Homo sapiens: one gene and its partners. The protein of the gene in region 5 interacts with the protein of the main gene of each other region in a pairwise test. Each region holds a gene or a part of one and is shown on either strand. Other genes may lie near its edges.

Region 1 (3,500 bases), on a different chromosome or scaffold from region 5:
GACTCCTGGGGAAATTTGTCAGAACAGAATAGAAAGCCACTACGTCAGTGTGCTGCAGGGTAGGAGGCGTGCTCTGGGGGCGAAGCATTGGTGTGATAGGTGCTGCAGCAGAAATGGCATCAACAAAGGGTTAAGAGGTAAGGACACGAACCCCTCATAAGCCAACCCTCTGCTCCTCTGTGTCCTTCCTGTCAGACCTAGTTCATATGTAAGCATGCTTTTATTCTAGTTGTAACCCTACATCACTGAATTAAAGGAAAAGAGATGAAGAGGAAGCAGTCTACAAGAAGAAGGAAGTAACTTTGCCTGATGGAAGGTCAAAGTGCAAACTAAAATGGGAAACTACTAGATTAGGAGCACGAGGCCTAGTCCCTGATCCTGGCTCATGTGAACATGGCAAGTCACATCTTCCCTCCAGGCTTTGTCTATAAAATATGAGGTTTAGGCTGAAGTCCTCTCACATTTGAAGAAGCAAATGACTCTTAACTAAGATTGTTTAGATGGGAAAAAAATGGGACAGGGCATTGACAAATATTGGAAATTTAAAATTTTCAACATCCAGTTCTCACTCAAGGAGGCAATGCCAAAGAATGAAGACTCCAAGGCCCAGCTGAACCAGCATCTAAACAAGCATCAGTCCTAAAGGAAAAGGCATACTTGGGAGAATAAACTGTGAGGCTAGAGAGAGAGAGTACGGTGAGAAGAATGGGCTACTACTAGCCCATGAGATTACAGTCAGAACTAAGCTTGTGACCAGTGAGTGCGTAAGTTCAGGCCTGCCTCTTATGGACAGTGCCTACCTGGAGAGGCATAGGGTGAAGTGGAGGTGGTGGAGACATAAAGGAAGTGATACTATCCCTTAGGGTGATTTTACTAGTGTATGGAATTGGGAAAGGACAGCCACTTACAGACCAGTGGTACTTGTCTGAAGGGTGAGGCAACAGGCTTACACTGGGTTAACGGCAGATCTGGGAGATATTATGGGAGAAGATTTTGCAGGACTTGGTGATGAAAGTGAAGGAATGCAGCATACAGCAGTCACAGCTGAGTCAAAGGTTGTGGCTGTGAGGTGCCCAGGGGAAGAAAAGGGAATCTGTATTTATTGAAGACCTGTTATTTGCCCAACATTGTGCTAGTCCCTTTGCATCGGTGGTCTAAGTCTGCTAACAACCCTGTGAAATAATCATCAGATGAGGAATTTGAAGAGGAGGCAACTTCATTCATTCATTCAACCAAACATATATTCACCTAATTGATTGAGTCTCTATCACAATGCATGATGCTCAATGCACACTAAGACATGATCCCTGACTCCAAGAAGCTTAAAATCAAGTGAAGTAGGCATACAATAAATAGACAAAACATGAGTGCTGTGAAGGAAATGAACAGAACACAGTAACCAAAATCCTAGCTCACTGCAGCCTCCACCTGCTGGGCTCAAGCAATCCTCCCACCTCAGTCTCCCAAGTAGCTGGGACTACTATAAGTGCATGCCACCATGACCGCCTAATTTTTTTGTTTTAAGAGATGAGGTCTTGCTAGGTTGCCCAGGCTGATCTTGAATTCCTGGGCTCAAGAGATCCTCCCATTTCGACTTCCCGAAGTGCTGAAATTACAGGTGGGAGTCACCATGCCTGGCCAGTTTAAGCAGACACCTGAAGGATGATCAAAAGCCAGCCACGTATGAGAGAGAAAAGAGCATCCCAGGCAGAAGGAACCATATATGTGAGAGCTCTGAGTGAGGAAGAGCTTGGTGCCTACGATCACCCAGACAGTAAAGAAAGAGATGATATTTGAACTCAGGCTCTCCTGCTTCCAAATCACTCCAGTCTGAAGTAATCTCTAAGATGGGAAAGAAACATGTGCACAGGAAAGTGATTTCTTTAGACTTCCAGAAACGTTAGCAAGGTTTTAAACCAATGACTGTGAAGTTACAGTGAAATCTTCCATTTAGACAGTACTTTCCAGACTTCAAAGCACTTTCATGGTCATTACACTCGAACTCATTTCACCCTTAAAAGAATCCTGTGAAGACAACTCAGATTCAACACATACTTACACAGTGCTCACGAGGTTTCAGGTACTGTGAAATTATCTTTTTAGTACCTTCTCTGTGCTAAGTACTGGGCTGAGTGTGAAGACATCCGTGATAATTAAGAATAGACACAGATCCAGTTCTCCCCTGAGCTTACAGTCTACTGGAGCAGGGAGACAATTAAATAATCTCATCAATGAATACAATTATTAATGGACTAAGTGCTCAGAAGAAAGGAGTAGTTCTTTTTTTTTTTTTTTTTTTTGAGACGGAGTCTCGCTCTGTCACCCAGGCTGGAGTGCAGTAGTGGTGCGATCTCCTCTCACTGTAAGCTCCGCCCCCCGGGTTCATGCCATTCTCCTGCTCCAGCCTCCAGAGTAGTTGGGACTACAGGCACCCGCCACCACGCCCGGCTAATTTTTTTGTATTTTTAGTAGAGACAGGGTTTCACCGTGTTCGCCAGGATGGTCTCGATCTCCTGACCTCGTGATCCGCCCACCTCAGCCTGCCAAAGTGCTGGGATTACAGGTGTGAGCCACCGTGCCCGGCCAGAAAGGGTAGTTCTTTAAACAAGTATATTAAAAATGAGACCCAGCTGGGTGCGGTGGCTCACACCTGTAATCCCAGCACTTTGGAAGACTGAGGTGGGTGGATCATTTGAAGCCAGGAGTTCAAGACCAGCCTGGGCAACATACTGAAACCCTATCTCTACTAAAACTACAAAAAATAGCTGGGCGTGGTGGTGCGTGCCTGTAGTCCTAGCTACTCGGGAGGCTGAGGTGGGAGAATCACTTGTCCCTGGGAGGCAGAGGTTGCAGTGAGCCAAGATCAGGCCATTGCACTCCAGCCTGTACAACAGATCGGGACTCCGTCTAAAAAAAAAAAAAAAAAAGGGGAGACCCAACCTGGTCTGGAGCCCTGGGAAAGCTTCTAGACAAGGCAGTAGTAACCCTTGAGCTGAAACCTGAAAGATGATAAGGAGTTAATTTGGTGAAGGGAAGAGGAGGAGAAGCAGAGAGAGTGGCTACAGAAAAGCCTTTCCAAACAAGGAAATCATCATGCTTCTGAGGAACTGAGAGAAGGCCGGTCGGTGTAACTGGAAGGGAGGGAGAAAATAATTCAAGAGAGACAAGGTGATAGAATTGAGGTGAGAGAATTTGTTAACGGCTAGATCAAGCAGAGCCTCATGGGTTGCTTTAGAAATTTGATCTTTATTTAGAGGAGTGATGGGTCACATTTTTGTATGCAAACCACATTGGAGGGAGGCCAGAGATGATGTGGGGAGACCAGTTAGTAGGCAGTGGTCTAGATGAGAGATGATGAGACTTGGGCTAGGGTGACTTTTCCAGAATCCCATAGCTAGCCAGTGTCAGAGGTAAACAGAACCTGGGCTGTATTTTCTTGTCCAGTGCTTTTCTCATTACTTTGGAGGAAAGACAGTCTGGAATGGGGTGTCAGACCTGGG
Region 2 (2,853 bases), on a different chromosome or scaffold from region 5:
TCAATATTTAAATCTTAACCTATTTTTATCAATGATTACTTGAGAAAATCAAGTGTAATTCAAGCTGAACTCTTTCAAATTGTAGGACATGTTTATTTTTAAGCCTAAATGTTATGTCTCTCTAGCCTAGCTATATAAAATAGCCTTTCTCTCAAAGCCAATGCTAGGGCAAGAAAATGGACAGGGGACTAGATTAAAAGAACTGAGAGAAACATAAAAAAAAAAAATGCAATTGAAACCTGATTGGCTCTAGATCCAAATAAAAATCTACACACTTTGGAATATGGGCTGGATATGGCTGACATTACAGAATTATTCATTTTATTAGGTATTATAATGGTATTGTGGTTATAAAGGAGGATGTCCTCAATCTTAGAAAATGTAGGCTGAAATATTTAGGGGCGAAGTACTGTGACCTCGTCACCTTATTTTCAAATGTTTCAGCAAAAAGTTATATATTTAAATAGAAAAAGCAAATGTGGCACAATATTAACAACTCATGAATTTAACTGAAGAGTTTATTATACTTTCAACTTTTCTGCAGATGTAACATTTTTTAAATAAAAAGTTGAGAATAAAAAAATCACAAAAATAGTTTTGCTGAAGAAAATACCACACATTCCTTTTTACTATAATATTTAATATAATAATATACACTTATACATTGGTATTATTTACACTTCATTAAAAAAAACCCATTCAACCTGAAATTAACTACCTTAAACACACTATTTAACTTTCAGTGCTAATGTATTAATTTCTTAAATATAAATCAAAATAGCTCAATATCTAAATTACTGATAACTAGATGCAGATGTAAGGATCATGAATCAATACTTCCATTAAGTTAAAAATATCAATAATTTTTTGCAACATTTCTTCTTTGTTTTTCTTCTTTGTCTAGAATAGTCTGTTTTAAGCTCAAAGTAGCATCTTGAAATCCAGGATTTAAGTCTAAGACCTTCTTGAAATCTTCCAAAGCATCATCAAAATATCCTGTACCAGAACCCAAAAAATGGAAAAGAGAAAAGAAACCGAGTATTTCTATATATTATTCATGGAAAAGCTTTGATACATGTACTTTTGCTTTTATATTTATGAGCTTTCAGTCACTTCTAGTAAAGGAATCTTTTTATCTTAATAATATAGAGATGTGTATATCAAAGTAATTTTGTGTGCCCTTAGGGAATAATACACCTAAAATTAGCTATGGGTTTATTTATTGAGATTTAACAGGTAAATATTATCAATCATCTTAAAATTTTAATAAAACTGTATCACCTGTTTTACATAATTGCAGTAAAATTAAGAAACGGGAACTAATTTTCTTTTTGACACTTTAAATGAAGAAACACTACCTATGGTCCCTTTAATCCAAGAATCTAAACTTCACTTTCTATTGTCTTGTGTGTCTTCAAAGATTTTAACTCAGAAAAGTTTCACAGGTGAACATCTGAATTGCCCTCATTTCACAGCTGGGAATGCACAAGCACAAAGTAATGGGGTCACCCCTGCTCCTGCGCCCAGGTCCAATTCCCACCCCAGTGCTCTGCTGTGATCTATAACGCCTATCAAAAGCCTAAAATAAACTCAGGGACACTTCCTTTGTTCCAAGCTCTAAACCTAAATTTCACAGAACTTTAAAATTTGATTACCACGTTAGTTTTACAACATTTGAAAGCTCTGAAATAACAGAATACAGTCAATGACAAAACTCAAAAAGAAAAAAAATTCTTACCCAGCCTATACAGTATCAACCCTCTGTTGTAATATGGAACTTCAAAATTGGGTTGGACTTCTATGGCAGATGTGTAGTCATCCATGGCTTCATAAAAATCAACCCTGAAGTACTTGATTTGCCCCCTGTTGTTATATGCAGTAGCCAAATCCTCAGGGCTGCATTTGCTTTAAACAAAAAGTTCACATTAAAAACACCGTGTTACCAAATTCCTCTCATTTCCACTTTCATTCTCTTTTGGGTATTGTCAAACTTCACAGCCTATAACATGCAGCATCAACACTGAAAATCCAAGCTGAAGAAAAAACGTACAAATAAAGAGCTAAAATCAATTTTTGTTTAACCCTGTTATCTACTTTTGTAGGGTTATACCACTGCAATGTCAACCTGAAAAGCATACTAACTTTACAGTGTGTTCACTGCCAATTTGTTCTGCTGAATATAACATTAAAATGATTGTTCATTTTTCTAAGCACACACCAGCAGGGCAAAGAAGACAGAACAGATAAATACTAAGCAAAGAGGGAAAGCCAGCCCAAAGCCCGAGTTTGCTATGGATATGTCACAATGTGAATCAATTTCATTCTCAAATTTTTAAGTGATCTTAAAACAATAAGATTTGAAATCATTTTCCACCAATAAAAAACTAAAGTTAACGCTAAGTGAAAATTCAACATGCTACGATCCCCAGGAAGTTATCTCTGGGGACAGAGTTGCCCTCCCTCCAGCCTCAGCTGGCATCCTCCCCAATGCCAGGCTGGCTTCCTGCTAGGAGGGTGGGCTCCTTTAGACCCCCTCAGGGCTCCAGTCAATTTTGATGTCCTTTGTGCAGAACTGGCTCTGCACCTGAGGGAACTAGAGGTTGCCCAAAGAGCTTTAAATTAGCAGCCATTCCTGGGCTGTACAGCCAGGTAGCTCTGACCAGCCACCAGCTCAACAGGTCACAGCCCCTGGCTGCCTTGAACCTTTCTCTGCACAGGACAAATAGTCTGCACAGAGAACATTAGTGCCTCTGCTCTGAGTCAGGGATGATTCTGTTTCCCTTTCTTTTTTCCCAAAGCAATTCTCAAATTAGAACCAAACAGAGAATTCATCTGTCACTTCTTTGTAATACC
Region 3 (3,500 bases), on a different chromosome or scaffold from region 5:
CCTCCACACGCACCTCTGCCGCTTCTGCTGCTGTTGTTGGCACTTCTGCTGCAGCTGCTGGTGGCGCTGGGCAGCAGCTGCTAGGAGCTCCTCAGCCTTCCTGTGCTCTTCCTGAAACAGCTGCCTGGGGGGCCCAGTAGGGGGTGGTCAGCACCGGCCACTCCCTCCTCCCACCCTCTTCCCCTCCACATCTTACACTGTGGCTGCAGCCTCCTGGCTGCGGAGAAAGAGTCCCTCATCAAGGGTGGAGGGGCCCTCAGCCCCACACAGGGAGCACAGCTGATGCTTCACGTCTTCCAGTGTCGCCTTGACCAGCTTCTCTGCAGCACAAAGGGGCAGGTGAGCACATGAAGGCACGTGAGGTCAGATATGGGCCATCCACCTTCCCTGGTCTCACCTTCCTTGAGCAGCTGCTCCTTGCTGCTGTCCAGGGCACAAATCTCCTTTGCCAGCCGCTCTGGCATCTGAGGGGCAGAAAAGAGGCCTGTCCACTCCTCTTGGCTTTCCCCCATGCCTCAAAGAAGGCTATCTGGATCTTGTTTCATACTTACTCACTATGCCTCACTTCCAACAACTCTGCCCCTCTGTGCACACCAGCTACAGTACAGCCTCAGGGCCATGGCACTGGCCATTCCCTCCCTGTGCACTTCTGTCATCCCACATCTCTGCGGTACTGCAGTGGGGATGCTCATGGATTGTTATTTACAACAGATAAACCTGCAAGCACTGTGAGTCTTGGCTGTTTTCTGGAGGATCAGGTACCGGTTTAGCTCTGCAGCTCCTCCCCACTCCCCTCTGTCCTGGTGTGACCTCCTCACTGAGCCCTTCCTTCCTGACACTCACTGTCTATTTTCTTGTTCAGTGCCTAGGATCCTCCTGGGGGACAAACACGGGCTGCTTATCCTCGTTGTCTCCTTTGTGCCCGTGATGGTCCCAGACACATCCACGGACAGTGATGGAAGACTTGACCTTGGTCTCATCAGAGATCCCCCTGACCACTGAGCAGCAGGGTCACAAGGAGGTGACAAGGGACTGGATTCAGGCAATGTCGATCTTAGCACCACCAGGGCTTGCTTGGCGACTGGTTGTGGCAGGTGAGAGGAAGAAGTGACCGTTTGGGCCTGGTGCTGCTAGGGAAGATGTGGAAGGGGGAGGAGTGGCTTTGAGGGACTCACGTGGAAGTCCCAGAGGTCCTTGTGCTGGCCCATCAGATCTTCCAGCTGTTCCTCGAATGCCAACCTGGGAACCAACCACAGGCATGAGGGGATATGGGCTGAAATCACCACCTTCACAGCCTGTCCAAGTCTGTGGTTCTTCAGGCAGATTTTGGGGTGCTTTGCCCATGGTCTCTGCTCCACTGGGAACATCTTCACCACCTTGAATCTCCATGGCTCAGTGTAGCCAGCTTTTCTAACCCCCATCTTTGACATTATATCCCAACTACTGGCCATCCAAACCCCCTGCCTCAGATGCTAAGGTTTACCTCAGCTGTCTCTGTTTGTTCTTCTCTTCTTCAATCTGCAAGTTCAGGGCAGAAATTCTCTCCTTGCACTCCTGCAACATGGTGTGCTTCCTGGGAGAGGCGAGGCAGCCCTCAGCCATGTTCTCTTAAGCCCCAGGAGGGCACTGGGCTGGGGCTTCTGCCTCCCTCTATTGAGGCTATTTTTTCCCTCTACATTAAGGTCCTTCTCTGTAACATGTGGTAAGTAGGGAGTGACATGACCATTTGCCCCCTGGAAGTATTGTTGTCAGGTTAAGAGAGATTAATGTGGACATGGTTAAGTGAGCAAATGCACACACATCTTAGTATCATCTCGTTTTCCCAAAGAGCTGAAATCTCAGTGTGCCAGGGCCTGGGGCCTCTGGTAACAAATGAGCTAAATCAGGAGGTGGAGAAATGGATGGACAAATCGATGGGTGGATGAAAAGATAATGGATGAATGGAGAGAGAATGGACAAATGGTTGGCTCAATGCCTAAATGAACAGACAGATGAGTGAATAGACATCCAAGGAGTATGACAAAGAGTAAAAGGCAAAAAATAAAAACCAGCTGAAGAAATTTAATTGACAATTTAGCAAATGAATGTCTTGCCATTGAGAGAGTTTCCCTTAACACTACTGCCAGCTGTTGGAGCCGAAGGGGAAAGACATTCTTTGGACTCTCCATTGTTTAGAGGGAAACAATGAGAGCTGTGGGTCTCAGATTCATCTTCCTGCCTCTTTCTGCTCTACCAGAATAAAGAGGTAGTGCAGAGTTAGGCTCAGCTGGAAGCTCTTACCTGTGTGCCTCACTTTCCTTTTCCTGGCAATGCAGCCGGAGGATCCTCAGGGTCTCTGTAGGGAGAGCAACAGGGCCCTATGAGAACCTGTCAAGGTATTGGGTTTTGGCAGGGGGAACACAGCCAGATCATGTCAGGTCTGTGGACACCTGATTGAGCTTTAACATTTACTACATGTCTGGTGGAAGCCACAGGAGAGAGGCAAGCTGGGACAGGTTTCAAAAGGCTTCAGCTGCCATAGGGAGAGTGGGCTTCTGTGGGTTGGCAAAGGCACAAGCCTGGAGACAGGGGAGCGGCAAATACCTTGTTTTTTGCTCAAGATCTCCTTCAGGTGTACTTTCTCTCCATGCACTAGAAAACAGTGACACATTTTGGCATCAGGGACTATGCACTGCACCCTCAGGGATGGGGCTTGCTCACGGTCACATGGGAAGCTGGGCACAGCCTTGGCCCCAACCCAAATGTGAACCCTTGAGGTGAGCCCCTCCCTACCCTCTGGTGCCCACATTCCTTGTAAGCACCAAAGGGCCTTCACATTTACAGAGGGTGGCTGTGAGGGCCCTGGAGGATGCTCGTGCTTTTACATGGGGAGGAGAGAAAAAATACCAACACCCACGAAGTGGGATAAGGGCTATAAAGAAACACATCAAATAGGATGGGGCATGTGACCAGATGGAGGCAGGGTGCCATCTTTAAATGGGATGATTGGGGAATGCCAGTCATCCTGTCTGGGGACATTCTAACTTAGAGCTGATGATGTGAGGAAAGAGGAACCTGTATTATCTGAGGAAGCACAGACAGCGTCTGGCAAAAGCCCTGAGGTGGGAATGAGGTTGGAGGGTGTTTCCTGAACACTCCCACAAGCAGAGAGGAGAGGGGGAGATTGGCAGGACATGAGGCTAGAGAGGGTACAGGACCCTTGGCCATGGCAAGGATGCTGATTATCTGGAATACAGGGTTAGGGGAGGCTTAAGACACTGTGGGGACCTCTGGGTGACCCCCGGCTCTCTTACGCGAGTCCAGTTCCTTCTGCAGGGCCTCACAGATGGTCCGGGCCTCTCCTAGGTCTTTATTGGCTTTCTTTTTTGCTTCACCAAAGAGCAGAAAAACATTGTGTGAGTGCAGCCTCTATTCTCTTCCCAACAGTGACATTTCTCATTTGCCTTCAGGTAAATCTATAGTGGCCTAGATTTTATAGAGTAGGAAACGAGGCTTCCAGC
Region 4 (2,786 bases), on a different chromosome or scaffold from region 5:
CTTCCCAACTTTCTAACTGCATTTCTCATCAAACTCCTTTTACTTGTTTCAAGCAGACTGGGTTCATCCATGCTACTAGAACAGATTATTCAATTACACACTTTTCTTCAAACCACCACTGCCCACTTCCAAGAGCAACCTAATGATTTGTCTTATCCTACCCTTAGGCAAATCCCAGGGCTAAGATGGTAATTTAAATGGGTCCTATAAGAAGTATTAATTTTAGGTTGCTTGTTGGGAAGGCTCATAATTGGGCAAGCAGGCGGGCAAGTTGTCTTGCTCTCCTATCCTGACCAATTTGTTCTATCCTGACCAATTTAAGTGGGTCCCTCTTCTCGGAAACATTCCTCAAGTATCAGGGCCCACAATAATCTCTCCCTTCTTAACTCAAGAACAGAATTTTCTAATAAGCGCATGTTTGTCATACTAATAATTACCTATGTTTGTAAGTGCACACGATTTATCTGTACATGGTTCTTAAACTGAAGAAGGGTCACTTATGCCAATTTTAACATAGAACTTTATTGAAAACACAGACTCAAATAGAGAACCATATATTTAAACAACGAATAGCAGGGTAGCTTACTTAGGTGACACAGTTCATTGAAAACTTAATACTGAAAAATACCGCAATCTGGACAGCAAGACAAATATCAACAAATGTGTTTTCAGTTTTGATATTCATTTGGCATCCACAAAATGATCCAGCTCAAAACAAGAGTTTGACAAAGTTAACATCAGCATTAAAAAATATAAGTTACAACAAAAAAACAGACTGTGAACACCAAAGCACTACTCAGGGCTCTTTGGGAACATAAGGCTGATCAGCGGCAGGTGGTTAATCATATTAACTTTGTTGTCCCACCTCAGGATCATTTTGGTTGTCTATTTGGGCTTGTAGTTGCTTAGCTAACTCCTCAAATTCACGAAATGCAGAAATAAGCGGCTCAAGACTGAAATCATCATCAATTAAGGACATCTTTCCACTTTTTATAATGTTACTGATATTCTGAAACATTTTAATAACAATTTGAATATTATCATTTGTCTCTTCTATGTTAAAGAGACCCACAAATATTGAAAGAGCTTTGGCACTGAATAGTTTTTTTGCCACAGCAGGATTTTCAGACAAATTCAATAGCATTTTCAGAACGTGAAACTTCGTTCTCGCATTGGCTGTGGTTAATAAGGAGAGAAACCCGGACATATAGTTGGCAATCAGTGTGTGATAGTCAATAGTCATAGTGAGGTGTCTAAGCATCCTTATTCCAGTCAGCTGCTCAAGGGAATCCACACTATGTGCAAGGGTTTCCTCACACACTTGACATATGAATGTCTCAATCATGTTTAGATTTGGATAAGGTGGAGCCATGTGAATCATATTTTCCAAAAAACTTGTCCTAACTCTAGAGGATGGATAATTAAGCAAGGTTTCAATAAGTGAGACAACACCTGAATCTCGAATGAAATCTCGGGTAAATTGAGAAGCACTTCTCATACCCATTGCAATTTTAGATATTTCATGAATAAAAGGATCCCGAATTTTGTCCATTAATAAAAGGAATTCTTCAAACTCTTCAGAACCAATTTTCAGCTCACATTGTATGCAGCTGCAGGACCAACTCTCAGACTCTGCACTCTCCCTGGCCCTAAGATGCTCTCGAATTTCCCGGACTGACCGGTAGGAAGGATCATACTGAAATGTGAACTCAGGACTAGGCTGATCAGGCTGAAGCAAAGATTCCTGCTCTTCTCCTTCTGGGCTAAGTTCCAGGTTCTTGGGCTTTGCCTCAAGCATTTCAGAAGCCTCTTCGGGAATTCCAAAGGGGCTTGTGGATCGGAAGCCAACCCCATGAAAAAGACCAGGTTTGAATTCAACAGTGACCTCGTCCCAGGTTTGGGGCCTGGAGGATGCATTAAGCTCCTCAGCTGCATCTCTGAACCTATCACTGACCTTGTACACAGGACAGGGATTTAGGTCAAAGCAGGCCTCATCTCTGTCCCAGAACCAGGACCCAAATATGGCCTCTTCTTCAGACTCCGGCTTGGCCTCTTCTCTGGCCACAGCCCCCAAACTGGACTTTTCCTCAGCCCAGTACGCGGATCCGCCAATGGCCCCCTCCTCAGTTCCTGGCTCAGATTCACAGATTGCTGAAGCTCCACCCTCCAAACTGGCCTCTTTTTCTGCCCAGAACCAGGACCCAATAATGACTTCCTCCTCAAACCTGGGTTCTTGTTTGACCCTATCACTGTCAACATCTTTCTGGGCCCTGAGTTTCAAGGCAGTATTAGGATCTTCTTTGTCTCTGTGCCTGAATCTACTATTGGCCTCTTCTCCAGGCAAAACCCAGGACTGCTTATAGAACTCATCTTCAGACTCAGATTCAAAACAATCTTCTCTATTTGTCCTGAGCTTGGACCTGATATTTGCCTCCTCCCTGACTCTGGGCCTGAACAAGTTATTGGTATTTTCTCCAACCCAGAAGGAGAATGGGTTGCTGGCCTCATCCTCAGATCCAGACCAGGAATCAACATAGGCTTCTTGCTTGGATCTGGGCCTGGACCTGGGATTAGTCTGATGTTTAGCCCTGTGCCTGGACCTGGTATTGGACTCTTCCCTGGGCCATGATCTGACACTTGTCTCTTCTCCAGTCCAGAAAGAAGACGCTGTAGAGGTCTCATCTGCTGACCAGAACCCAGACTCATTAGAGGCCTCCTCTCTGGCCCTGGGCCTGGAATAGCACCAAGACCCCATATTAGTCTCCTCCCCTGGTCCAAACCAGGGC
Region 5 (3,500 bases):
GGTGTGCACCACCACACCTGCTACTCAGGAGGCTGAGGCAGGAGAATTGCTTGAACCCGGGAGGCGGAAGTTGCAGTGAGCCGAGATCGCGCCATTGCACTCCAGCCTGGGCAACAGAGTGAGACTCCATCTCAAAAATAAATAAGTAAGTGCTGAGAATAAAATAGGAGTTGTCAGCCAGGGGTTTGTGAAAGGTGGAACTGTCTTGGCCTCCTGGTGTAGTGAGCATTCCAGAGAGGCCTTCCGAAATGAACAATAAATGGGATAATGCCTCATTTTGTTCAGTAAGGAAGTGGGGTGGTGTGAGTTGTTCATTCAGTGCCAGGCACTTTCCTTGGTGCCACATACATAGAGATGACAGCACCAGGCCTGTCCTGGATGAGCTTCCCCAGCGAGAGGGGAATACCTATGATCAGGGCAGTGATAATGGTCAACTCAGGGGCTGTGGGATCAGAGTAGCCTGTGGGTGAAATAAAACACTTTCTCTTTTTTTTTTTTTTTTTTTTTTGAGACAGAGTCTCTGTCGCCCAGGCTGGAGTGCAGTGGCACAATCTCAGCTCACTTCAACCTCTGCCTCCCAGGTTAAAGTGATTCTCCTGCCTCAGCCTTCCTAGAAGCTGGGATTACAGGCGCACACCACCACTCCTGGCTAATCTTTGTATTTTTAGTAGAGACGAGGTTTTACCATGTTGGCCAGGCTGATCTTGAACTCCTGACCTCAGGTGATCCGCCTGCCTCGGCCTCCCAAAGTGCTGGAATTATAGGCGTGGGTCACCGCACCCGGCCAAAGAAAACACTTTCAACACAGCTTTGGGTTGTGATCGATCCCAGCTGTGCTTCTCTAATCTTGCACAGGTTTCTTAACTCGTATGGGCTTCAGTTTCTTTGGAAGGTGTGTTCTCTTTGCAGAGTTGAGGGGTGTGTTTGGTAAAAGCAGAGAAAGTGAGCCAGGGACTGGTGCGTTGTAGACGCTCCAGGCCATTGGTTCCCCTCCTTTTAGTTCTGAGTCCACATGGTGTTTGAAATATCCCCACAGCTTCCAATGCATGTTTACCCACATTGCCTTAGTTGATCTCTCCTAATAGCTTTGAGAGCCATAATCTCTCTTTTTCAGATGAAGAAACTAGGGCCCAGGCCGGGCGCGGTGGCTCATGCCTGTAATCCCAGCACTTTGGGAGGCCGAGACAGGCGGATCACGAGGTCAGGAGATCGAGACCATCCTGGCTAACACGGTGAAACCCCGTCTCTACTAAAAAATACAAAAAATTAGCTGGGCGTGTTGGCAGGCACCTGTAGTCCCAGCTACTGAGGAAGCTGAGGCAGGAGAATGGCGTAAACCAGGGAGGCGGAGCTTGCAGTGAGCCGAGATCGCGCCACTGCACTCCAGCCTGGGGGATAGAGCGAGACTCCGTCTCAAAAAAAGAAAAAAAGGAAACTAGGGCCCCAGAATAATCAGCTGGTTGGTGAGAAGCCTCTGTTTGAACCTTTTAACTTCCAATCCCATATCCTTTTATATGACAGTATATTTATCTGAGATATACTGAAATGAGTCACTTTTATTATGAGTCTTCTGATGAGGCCTGTGTTTTAAAAGTCTGGGATCTGTGAAGATTTCCCATGTGCAGAATCTCCTGGCATTACCATTTGGTGTGTTAATTTTTAAACATGGTAAACAGAGATAATAAGGGCAAAAGATTCCTTGGAAAGATGCAGGTCTGGGAAGCCAGTAGGGGATGCTGAGCGCTCTTTTGACTGACTGGATGCTTCCTTTCTCGCCTTTTGAGGTGGTGTGGACCCTGCAAGATCCTGGGGCCGAGGTTAGAGAAGATGGTGGCCAAGCAGCACGGGAAGGTGGTGATGGCCAAGGTGGATATTGATGACCACACAGACCTCGCCATTGAGTATGAGGTATGGATTGACAGGGAGTTGCCACAGGGAAGCCAGTATAGGAGGTGTCAGGCCCAGGGATAGCTGGTGTAGGAGGTATCTTGGGGAGCACAGGTAGCCAGTAAGCAAGGTGTCTTGGTTTTTCCAGAGCTTTTTTTTTTTGAGACGGAATCTCTCACTGTCACCTGGGCTAGAGTGCAATGGCATGATCTCGGCTCATTGCAACCTCTGCCTCCCGGGTTCACGCGATTCTCCTGCCTCAGCCTCCCAAGTAGCTGGGACTACAGGCGCACACCACCACGCCCAGCTAATTTTTTGTATTTTTAGTAGAGACAGGGTATCACCATGTTGGCCAGACTGGTCTGGAACTCCTGACCTTATGATCCACCCACCTTGGCCTCCCAAAGTGCTGGGATTACAGGCATGAGCCACTGCGCCCAGCCGGTTTTTCGAGAGCTTTTAAGAGCTCAGAGCACTTTGCAGAGGTGGCTCTTGATCCTCTGAGCCACCTGTCTCTCTTCACCACCTTTAGGAAGTAGATCGTATGACCCAAAAACACCAGGTCATTCACTTAGTCTCAGACATTGGTACATTCCTTTATCCATCTACCCACATGTTCAGTGAGCAGTCATTTGGGAGCTCGATGTGCCAAGCATTTGTGATTCTGACACAAGATGAGATCTTGTTTCCAAGCAAGATCTCTCCTAGTCTAGCAGGAGAGAACAGCAGGTAGAAAGATCATCTCAATATAGAAGTGCTAAAAGAAGAGGCGCATAAAGGAAGAAGGGACTGTTTGCTTGTGGGGGAGCTGGAGGGGACAGGGAATGCTTCACGTTAGAGAGAACCTCTGAGCTGAGCCATGAGGGATGCGCAGAGGAGGAGGAAGGGCTGAGGAAACAGCGTGCACAAAGACATGGAGTCGTCTCACTTGGTTGGTTGGTTTGTCTGTTTATTCAGCAGATATTTGAGAGTCCCTCAAGTGCCAGGTAGTGTTACTTGGTGTTGAGGATAAGGCAGTGAACAAAACTGACAAAATCTCTGCCTCCGTGGAGTCTACATTCTAGTATTTTAAATCAAGGGTCAGCAAACTTTTTCTCTAAAGGACTGGTTGGTATTGGAAGCATTGCAGGGCAGTGGTCGCTGCTACAACCATTCAGCTGGGCTCGTAGCCGAAAGCAGCCATAGACACTATACAAACAAATGGGCATGGCTGTGTTACAATAAAACTTTATTTACAAAAACAAGCAGTAGGCTGTATTGGGCCTGTGAACTATAGTTTGCTGACCCCTGTTTTAGATAATAAGTTCAATGGAGAAAAATACATCAGGAAGAGAGGATGGGAGTACTGCGTATGAGGCAGGGTTTTTGTTTTTTCGAGACAGAGTTTTGCTCTTGTTGCCCAAGCTGGAGTGCAGTGGCACAATCTCGGCTCACTGCAACCTCTGCCTCCCGGGTTCAAGCAGTTCTCCTGTCCCAGCCTCCGGAGTAGCTGAGATTACAGGCACGCGCCACCACGCCGGCTAATTTTTTGTATTTTTAGTAGAAATGAGGTTTCACCATGTTAGCCAGGCTGGTCTTGATCTCCTGACCTCGGGTGACCCACCTGCCTTGGC
Region 6 (3,500 bases), on a different chromosome or scaffold from region 5:
AGTGAGTATGTGGGGGTGTCTGTATGAAGGGTGGAGTTACCTTAGTCCTGTTGGTCCACATGACCAAACTCACGTCACTACTTCTATGTCAATAGCCATGCCACTCTAAAAGGACTAAATCAGGTATCCTTACAAAACTGGAAGAGATGCCAACCAAGTATGATTTCTCTCTACCACCCCTCACTAACAAAGAAAAAAAAACCCCTTAGATTTACTGAGTGCCCTATTACATGCCAGAACTTGCATTAAGTTATTTTACATATATTATCTCTAATTCTTACCTAACCCTGGCAAAGAAGGTATCAATGATCCCATTTTACATACGAGGAAAGAGAGGCTCAGAGGGGATAAGCAAGTTGCCAAGGTCTCAAAGCTACATGTCACTGCTGGGATTTGTACCCGATTCTATGCAAAATGGAATGCCAGACTTTCCCATTATGCCACAATGCCTCCATTAACAAAGAGCCTTAATAAAATCAAAAGCTTAAAACACAAAGATGGGTTAGCTAATGTTAGATAATGGGTTTAATCAATTAACTAATTAATAAGTTCAAATGGCTGATATTGGAGACTTGCTTCCATTGAGAATTGGAAGAAGCAGGAGAGAAGCAGGGCATTTAGATGCTTGGAATGAAAGGAAGGAGGGGTATAAATTTAAGAGAAAGAGATCTAGGGATGAATGAGGAGGAAATTTTGTGAGTTTCGTAACTTTGTCTAGCATTAACCAAAAGAGTACATAGAAACAGAGGCTCTATCCAGAGGTATTTTTTGTTATGCAACTGGAATACAGAATGTTATATTTTGTGGGAGTTAAAATATATTTTACAGTGAACAATTTTGTAAAAAGAAGATATATTTCCAGGGCTTTGTTTATTAAGGTATCACCATATTTTGAATTCTAAAGTAGAGAAAAAGGAAAGATAAAATTCCTGTCACATGAGCAGTACTTGACATAAAAGTGCCACTAGAGAAAAGCCATTTTAACAAAACTCTGTGTGTGTGTGTGTGTGTGTGTGTGTGTGTGTGTGTGTGTATATATACATATATATATATTTTTTAATGTGAACATTATTTTACCATAATTTGAATAAGGATCTCGTTGAACTTCACAATATTCCAATCCTGGTACTATATCAAAAATGCTGAAAAGCTGTTCTTCAGTGAAAGGAACTCTTGATACAACTGACAAGCGTTTGGAGATTGCTTCCTGGCCTCGGCTATCATTCTTGTCAAAACTTGAAAATTCAGATTGTTGTTCTCCGACAATATAAAAAAAAGTAAATCTTTAGATTTCTACACAGCCAACAATTCGCTTAACATTTTAAATACTAGAAAACAGAGTCCATTGTACTGAATAAAGGCACTGTATTTTGTAGTACGCTTCTGGTCATCAGAACTACCGATGGGACTAATGACAAGAAGAGACAACTCTCCCCACTCCCCTACCTTTAATGCAGAAATATAAGAAGAAATGCATAGTCTAATTTCACAGAAAGAAGTTTAGTATGCAAAACTGAAAAATATGGTAAGTATTTTACCTGAATGTTTACGTCAAATAACATTCACAGGCCTTACTTTCATTACCCATTTTCCCCTTTTTCTATTAGAGCTTCTACTTTTACCATTCCTCTCCTTTCTGTAGCCCTAATTTTAAAGTAGCAGTAGTTCTGGAACAAAATTTTAGGACTCATACGGAGAGGATCTCTACATATGTCTTTTTAAGTTTTTGGTCAGCTATATAGAGGCAGAAGCTCACCCAAAAAAGTGGCAGTGGTAATAGTTTCTAATATGAGGAATGCGTAACTTAACAGAGAAAACTATAATTAGAAATCAGTTAAACAAAATAAGTGTTAAATATTAAGAACTTTAGGAGTCATAATCCACATTTTAGGAATAAAAAAACTACATTTAAGATTTTTATTCACTAGGTGAAATTTATAGATGCCCAATAACAGAGTATTCTTTAAAACCCAAATTAGATTGCATATACTACATTATACTATTAAAAGTAAAGGTTGCCTACTTACCAAATGGAAACATATTTACTCTAGGTTCATGTCCCAAAGCTTCTTGCCTCATATTACTATAATAATCTTGTTCAGAGGATTCAGATGCTTTATTTTTAGGTTCAGCCAAGATTGCTCTAAAACCTGAAAAAACCCCATGAATTTCAAGTTTCACAGCAAATTTAACATACCTGCAAATATACTTGATTGCTAGTGCCTGACTCAGCTTTATAAATATAATTGTACAAAGCAAAATCTATACAATGGCCATCTCCTCCAGACCTACTTCTTTGCTTTCTGGAAGATGGCAAAGAGTAAATGACAAACAGCAAGTATCCCAAATTACGGGTCAATGTAGACATGAAAGATCAGCAATTCTATGCTATCCTTTCCCATCTCCCCCTATTACAGATAACATCGTCATTCATTCACCTAAGCTCCTCAACATTAAAATCCTGTAGGGCTTCTTTATATTTAACCTGTCACCAAGTTTCTTCCTTTGAAATGCACACAATTGGAATATGCTATCTTTTACTCTAACTTCCCTGCCTCTGTTTTTAATTTAGATTCTCTTCAATTAATTACAAGAGCCCTTTAACTGTTTTTTTTGCTTCTGGATCAAGGGTTCTTAACTAGGGGTCCAAGGATGAGCTTCAAAAGGTGGGAAGATTCCACAAACCCTCTGACACTTCAAACAAAATGCTTATTATGCATTTATGTGCACATGGGCATATTTCAAGGGTTCAGTTTTCTTCACATTATTCAGTGGCTTAAAAAAAGGATAAAACCAGCCAGTTTGAATTCTTCTCTGGAAATCTATCATTAATACAGTGGGGTTAGATCAACTGTTCTTACTTTTGTCTTTCTAAACAATCTACAAAGGAATCCTAATGCGGACTAACCTTGAACTTTTCCTAACCTCCAATATATGGTTCCCATGTTCCAATGTACCTAGTTAACTGTGTCTCAGAATGTCTCAGCAGAAATACTGTGCTTTACTCAGACAGCTGCCTTCACAGCACCAAGCAAAACACATGTTTATTCCTGGCATTGTGCCTCTGCTAGCACTGCTCTCACCTTCTGTCCTGCCTCCTCGACACCAGACACAAGTCCTACCCCCTCGGCATGTGTTGCCATGCTCATCCAGCACTTGTTTTTCACCATTGACAGACTCTACCATACACTTATGAACATTTTTTTCATTTGGCAAATTCTTACTGAGTCTACTATAAATGGCATTTACTTTTATAGAGAGCTTAATAAATCTTTATTGAGGGCCTATTATTGTACTAGATACCTGGAGTGACAGACAAATAAGGCATACTTCTTGCTTTCAAAGAGCCTTTAAAAAAAGTTCTTCCATTATTCTTTATTTTTTGCCTATTAGATCTTGGCTACCCAATACAGCTATAAATTCCTTAAATGTGAGGGCTGCCATATACTTCATCTGTATCCCTCTACTTAGCATATTGATCAGTATACTGCAGGTACTCA
Region 7 (3,500 bases), on a different chromosome or scaffold from region 5:
CTGGTCTGCAGGTTGGTAAGACTGTGGGAAAAGCACAGTATTTGGGTGGGAGTGTACCGATTTTCCAGGTACAGTCTGTCACGGCTTCCCTTGGCTAGGAAAAAGAAATCCCCCGACACCTTGTGCTTCCCAGGTGAGGTGACACCCTGCCCTGCTTTGGCTCACCCTCGGTGGGCTGCATGCACTGTCCAACCAGTCCCAACGAGATGAACCAGGTATCTCAGGTGGAAATACAGAAATCACCCATCTTCTGTGTCGATCAACACTGGGAGCTGCAGACTAGAGCTGTTCCTATTTGGTTATCTTGGCCATTCAGTAAAGTTATTTAATTTAAAACATTATCTGAGATGATATTATTTCTACTTCTTGGTGTATAAAAATTGTTTTTTTAAATGAAATGATGATGATAGTTGATGAGATCTAAAAAATAAAAGGTTGATAACACATCCGAAGATTTTTTGAAAATAGAATTGGTCTGTGGGAACCACTGTTTTAGGGAATTTTGGTCATGTATAGAAATTAATGGATTATATATAAAGAAAAATTTGAAATTTGTATGTATTTGTAGACTTTAAGCAAACAGAGCCAAATCAGATCCTGTCAAAAGTTACTGATTGTGATTTATAATGAAATGAGATCTACCTATACATCATAGTGTTCTTAGAATATTAACGTACATTGTGAATAACTGCATATAGTTTCTGACTGAATATAAACCCCATCTTTAAACTTACAAATATATATAATACCTACATAAATCAAAAGTTTCAAGGTACATGGCTAGTAAAGATTAAAATGCACAATTTCTAAACTGTTTTAAAATGGTCTAATTTAAAACTACTGACTTACATAACTTTGGCTATTAATCAAAATATAACTTCAGGGATATTGAGGAAATGGTCAAGATGACATTTTCAAATAAGAAGTAGTGGGAAGTAAGAAACCTTGATGTGAGCACTGCTTCACAGTGTAAAACTGACATAAAAATTGTTAAGGAAAAAGGTATATCTTTGAAATTGAAGGTGACTAGATATGTGAATGCTGTAGTGCTGTTAACAATACATAAAGAAGGTTAAAATATATTCTATTACATGTGTTCTATGTATTCTATTACAGTGGTTCTATTACATTAAAGGTGTCTCAGAAAATTCTGCTACAATGTTCAAGTCCATTAAATTAACAAGTGACTTCTTTGCCTGGTAAGCTGTTTGTTAACATTTTGCTAGCTGTCAAAAGGACTGACAGATTATGCAGCTTTATTTAAATTCTAATAAAAATGCAAAGATCATTCAAAATAAACATATATAATTATGCACTGTGAAAAGCAGTATTGAATACTTCAGAAGAACAACACAAGAAAATTAATTTCACCCTACTGGTTTTTATGCACCTACAAGTCTCAGGTTGCAATGTCACAGATGATCTCAACTCAAGCAGGATTATTGTAAAGCTAAATTAGTTCAGGTGGTAACTTGACTGCCTCTTCCCCTTGCTAATAACTTTGCCTATTAACTTGTGACTGTGAAATGATTTAAATAGTATGGCCTCCATGAACTGATGATCAGTTATTAAATAAAAATGGTTTGCCCTACAGGGTAACAATGGTTCCCAAGAAAATGACTTTTTTGACCCCAAATATGGCATATGGTATCCAATCTAAAAAAGTTCACTGGGTTAATTCTACTTTTGTTCTAAACTATTAACATGATCAATAACTACATATTGTTTAGTTCCCAAAAGAAAGTGTTTTGTTTTGTTTCATGTGTTTGAAGTATTATTACAAGATCATTTAACTTACTTTTGAACTTTTTCATTGGCCACTTGGGAGGCCTCTCTGGCATGTTGAAGTTGTAATTCCATATTTGCTCGCTCTGTCAGAGCTTGTTGCAGTTGAGTAGCCAGTTCCTCATTTTGTTGTTGAGTGATGGAAACAATGTTCTCTCTGTTTTTTAAAGCTTCTTCATATGTACTAAGGGTATAGTTAAACTGATCCTTCAGATTTTCTTCTTGAGATAAAGATTTGTGTAAACTGAGAAAATATTAAAAAAAATTTAAAGATAAGTAATGTAAACTGAGTGATCTATGATCTATTTAACAAAAACCTCCATTTAGAATCTCTAGTTCTAAAAATCAATAAATACTTAAATGAGCAAATGAAAATAATTTTTATGTCACAACATTATAATTGATAATTTCTCTGCTTCTAGGCTGAAAGCTACCCAGACAAATGATTATGCTACCAAAGCATACAAAAAGATGCTGCAAGATGTTAATTTAATTATATCAGTGTAAATATTACATTCAATTTTCTTTAAAAGGAATAGCAGAGAACTGGAAAATAAAGTATCTCTAGGCAAATAAAAGAATGTAATAAGCTGAAAGAAGTGAGAAGAGAATGGGCATTGGTTTAGGAGATCGAGGGTCTATTCTGCCAAGCACTTAATGAGAATGGATGAGGTTTATGCAAACACTGACCAGCCTTCTACATAGCATTTTCTACTTGATCTTCTACTTGTCACAGTTGAGATATAAATGAATTTAAAATCACTAGTCAGATTGCACAGAAATAAAATGTATTCATATATACATGTGTATATTTTTTTTTGGCTAATGAATCTCTTAACGAATACATCTACTCATTAAGTCATACAGAGAAATAGCATATAAATTAAGACTAAATGAATGCAGAAGAAAATGCAGACAAATAGAATCCTAAAATGCTAAAGGTCAAATCTTTGATATGTCATTACACCTACCACCTGAGGTTATTTTGAAATGGCACCAAGCACCTCACTCAATTAAATAAAGACATTTTGAAAATATAAATATTTAATAAGAGAAATTTAAACTCCACACAGGAGATGTTCTTTTTTATTAAATATCATTTCAGTATATGCATACAAAGGAAATGTCGATTGGAGACATTTGAAGTAAAACAACTTAACTATATAATATAGATTGATAATGGGAAGGAAAGCAATATCATTATTAAACCTGCAAAAAGCTAGTTAGTGAACTTTGGCATTGTCCTAATATCTAGCCTGATACTTTCTTTAAAACTGTTCAAAGTAATTATAAATTTCCTCTTTTAGTTTAAGTTATCTATAAGCCTTTACAGTATGCTTATTTTGGAGAAGGCGTCCCATAGAACTAGGATGGATATGAAACAAGGACAGTCAGCATACCAAATGAAACCACTTCAGGATTCAAACCCCTAAGAATACGGACTGTTACTAAGCGCTGGTCAACTGGTTACTACACAGAAAATTAGAATAGTGTGTAGTGCCACATTTGTAGAGTGCAAAAAATACCTTTTTTCATGGTTTGCACATTGTTATTAATCTAACTATCCCTACTTCATTTCTTCTCAGATTTTTCTACCAACCCATATGCTTAAAGGCTGTCTCTTGCCCATTTTACTATTTTTTCTGTGTCCTCTCACTTTCTGCATTCTTGTCTGTTCCAAGTTCCAATTTTCTTCAGCTCACCCTCTTTATCTC

What was found.
Region 1: the proteins of TXN2 (region 5) and ZMYND12 interact in binary tests that used the Homo sapiens proteins (3 or more experiments, as listed by UniProt).
Region 2: the proteins of TXN2 (region 5) and TTC32 interact in binary tests that used the Homo sapiens proteins (3 or more experiments, as listed by UniProt).
Region 3: the proteins of TXN2 (region 5) and SYCE1 interact in binary tests that used the Homo sapiens proteins (3 or more experiments, as listed by UniProt).
Region 4: the proteins of TXN2 (region 5) and GPRASP2 interact in binary tests that used the Homo sapiens proteins (3 or more experiments, as listed by UniProt).
Region 6: the proteins of TXN2 (region 5) and RBM45 interact in binary tests that used the Homo sapiens proteins (3 or more experiments, as listed by UniProt).
Region 7: the proteins of TXN2 (region 5) and MIPOL1 interact in binary tests that used the Homo sapiens proteins (3 or more experiments, as listed by UniProt).

What each region holds. Positions count from the first base shown.
Region 1 is NC_000001.11:42,442,523-42,446,022, forward strand, and holds part of ZMYND12 (zinc finger MYND domain-containing protein 12), read right to left. Parts: intron 1-3,500. UniProt on the Homo sapiens protein: Required for sperm flagellum function and male fertility.
Region 2 is NC_000002.12:19,896,131-19,898,983, forward strand, and holds the end of TTC32 (tetratricopeptide repeat protein 32), read right to left. Parts: intron 1,906-2,853; coding exon 1,739-1,905; intron 997-1,738; coding exon 857-996; 3' UTR 501-856; downstream 1-500.
Region 3 is NC_000010.11:133,555,584-133,559,083, forward strand, and holds part of SYCE1 (synaptonemal complex central element protein 1), read right to left. Parts: intron 3,369-3,500; coding exon 3,294-3,368; intron 2,632-3,293; coding exon 2,584-2,631; intron 2,336-2,583; coding exon 2,281-2,335; intron 1,574-2,280; coding exon 1,484-1,573; intron 1,240-1,483; coding exon 1,176-1,239; intron 465-1,175; coding exon 398-464; intron 321-397; coding exon 197-320; intron 125-196; coding exon 14-124; intron 1-13. UniProt on the Homo sapiens protein: Major component of the transverse central element of synaptonemal complexes (SCS), formed between homologous chromosomes during meiotic prophase. Requires SYCP1 in order to be incorporated into the central element.
Region 4 is NC_000023.11:102,715,448-102,718,233, reverse strand, and holds the end of GPRASP2 (G-protein coupled receptor-associated sorting protein 2), read right to left. Parts: coding exon 848-2,786; 3' UTR 501-847; downstream 1-500. Other genes in the region: ARMCX5-GPRASP2 (G-protein coupled receptor-associated sorting protein 2), read right to left, coding at 848-2,786. UniProt on the Homo sapiens protein: May play a role in regulation of a variety of G-protein coupled receptors.
Region 5 is NC_000022.11:36,475,141-36,478,640, reverse strand, and holds part of TXN2 (thioredoxin, mitochondrial precursor), read left to right. Parts: intron 1-1,784; coding exon 1,785-1,908; intron 1,909-3,500.
Region 6 is NC_000002.12:178,118,937-178,122,436, reverse strand, and holds part of RBM45 (RNA-binding protein 45), read right to left. Parts: intron 2,151-3,500; coding exon 2,028-2,150; intron 1,264-2,027; coding exon of another isoform or gene 1,258-1,263; coding exon 1,078-1,257; intron 1-1,077. UniProt on the Homo sapiens protein: RNA-binding protein with binding specificity for poly(C). May play an important role in neural development.
Region 7 is NC_000014.9:37,498,437-37,501,936, reverse strand, and holds part of MIPOL1 (mirror-image polydactyly gene 1 protein), read right to left. Parts: intron 2,030-3,500; coding exon 1,799-2,029; intron 1-1,798.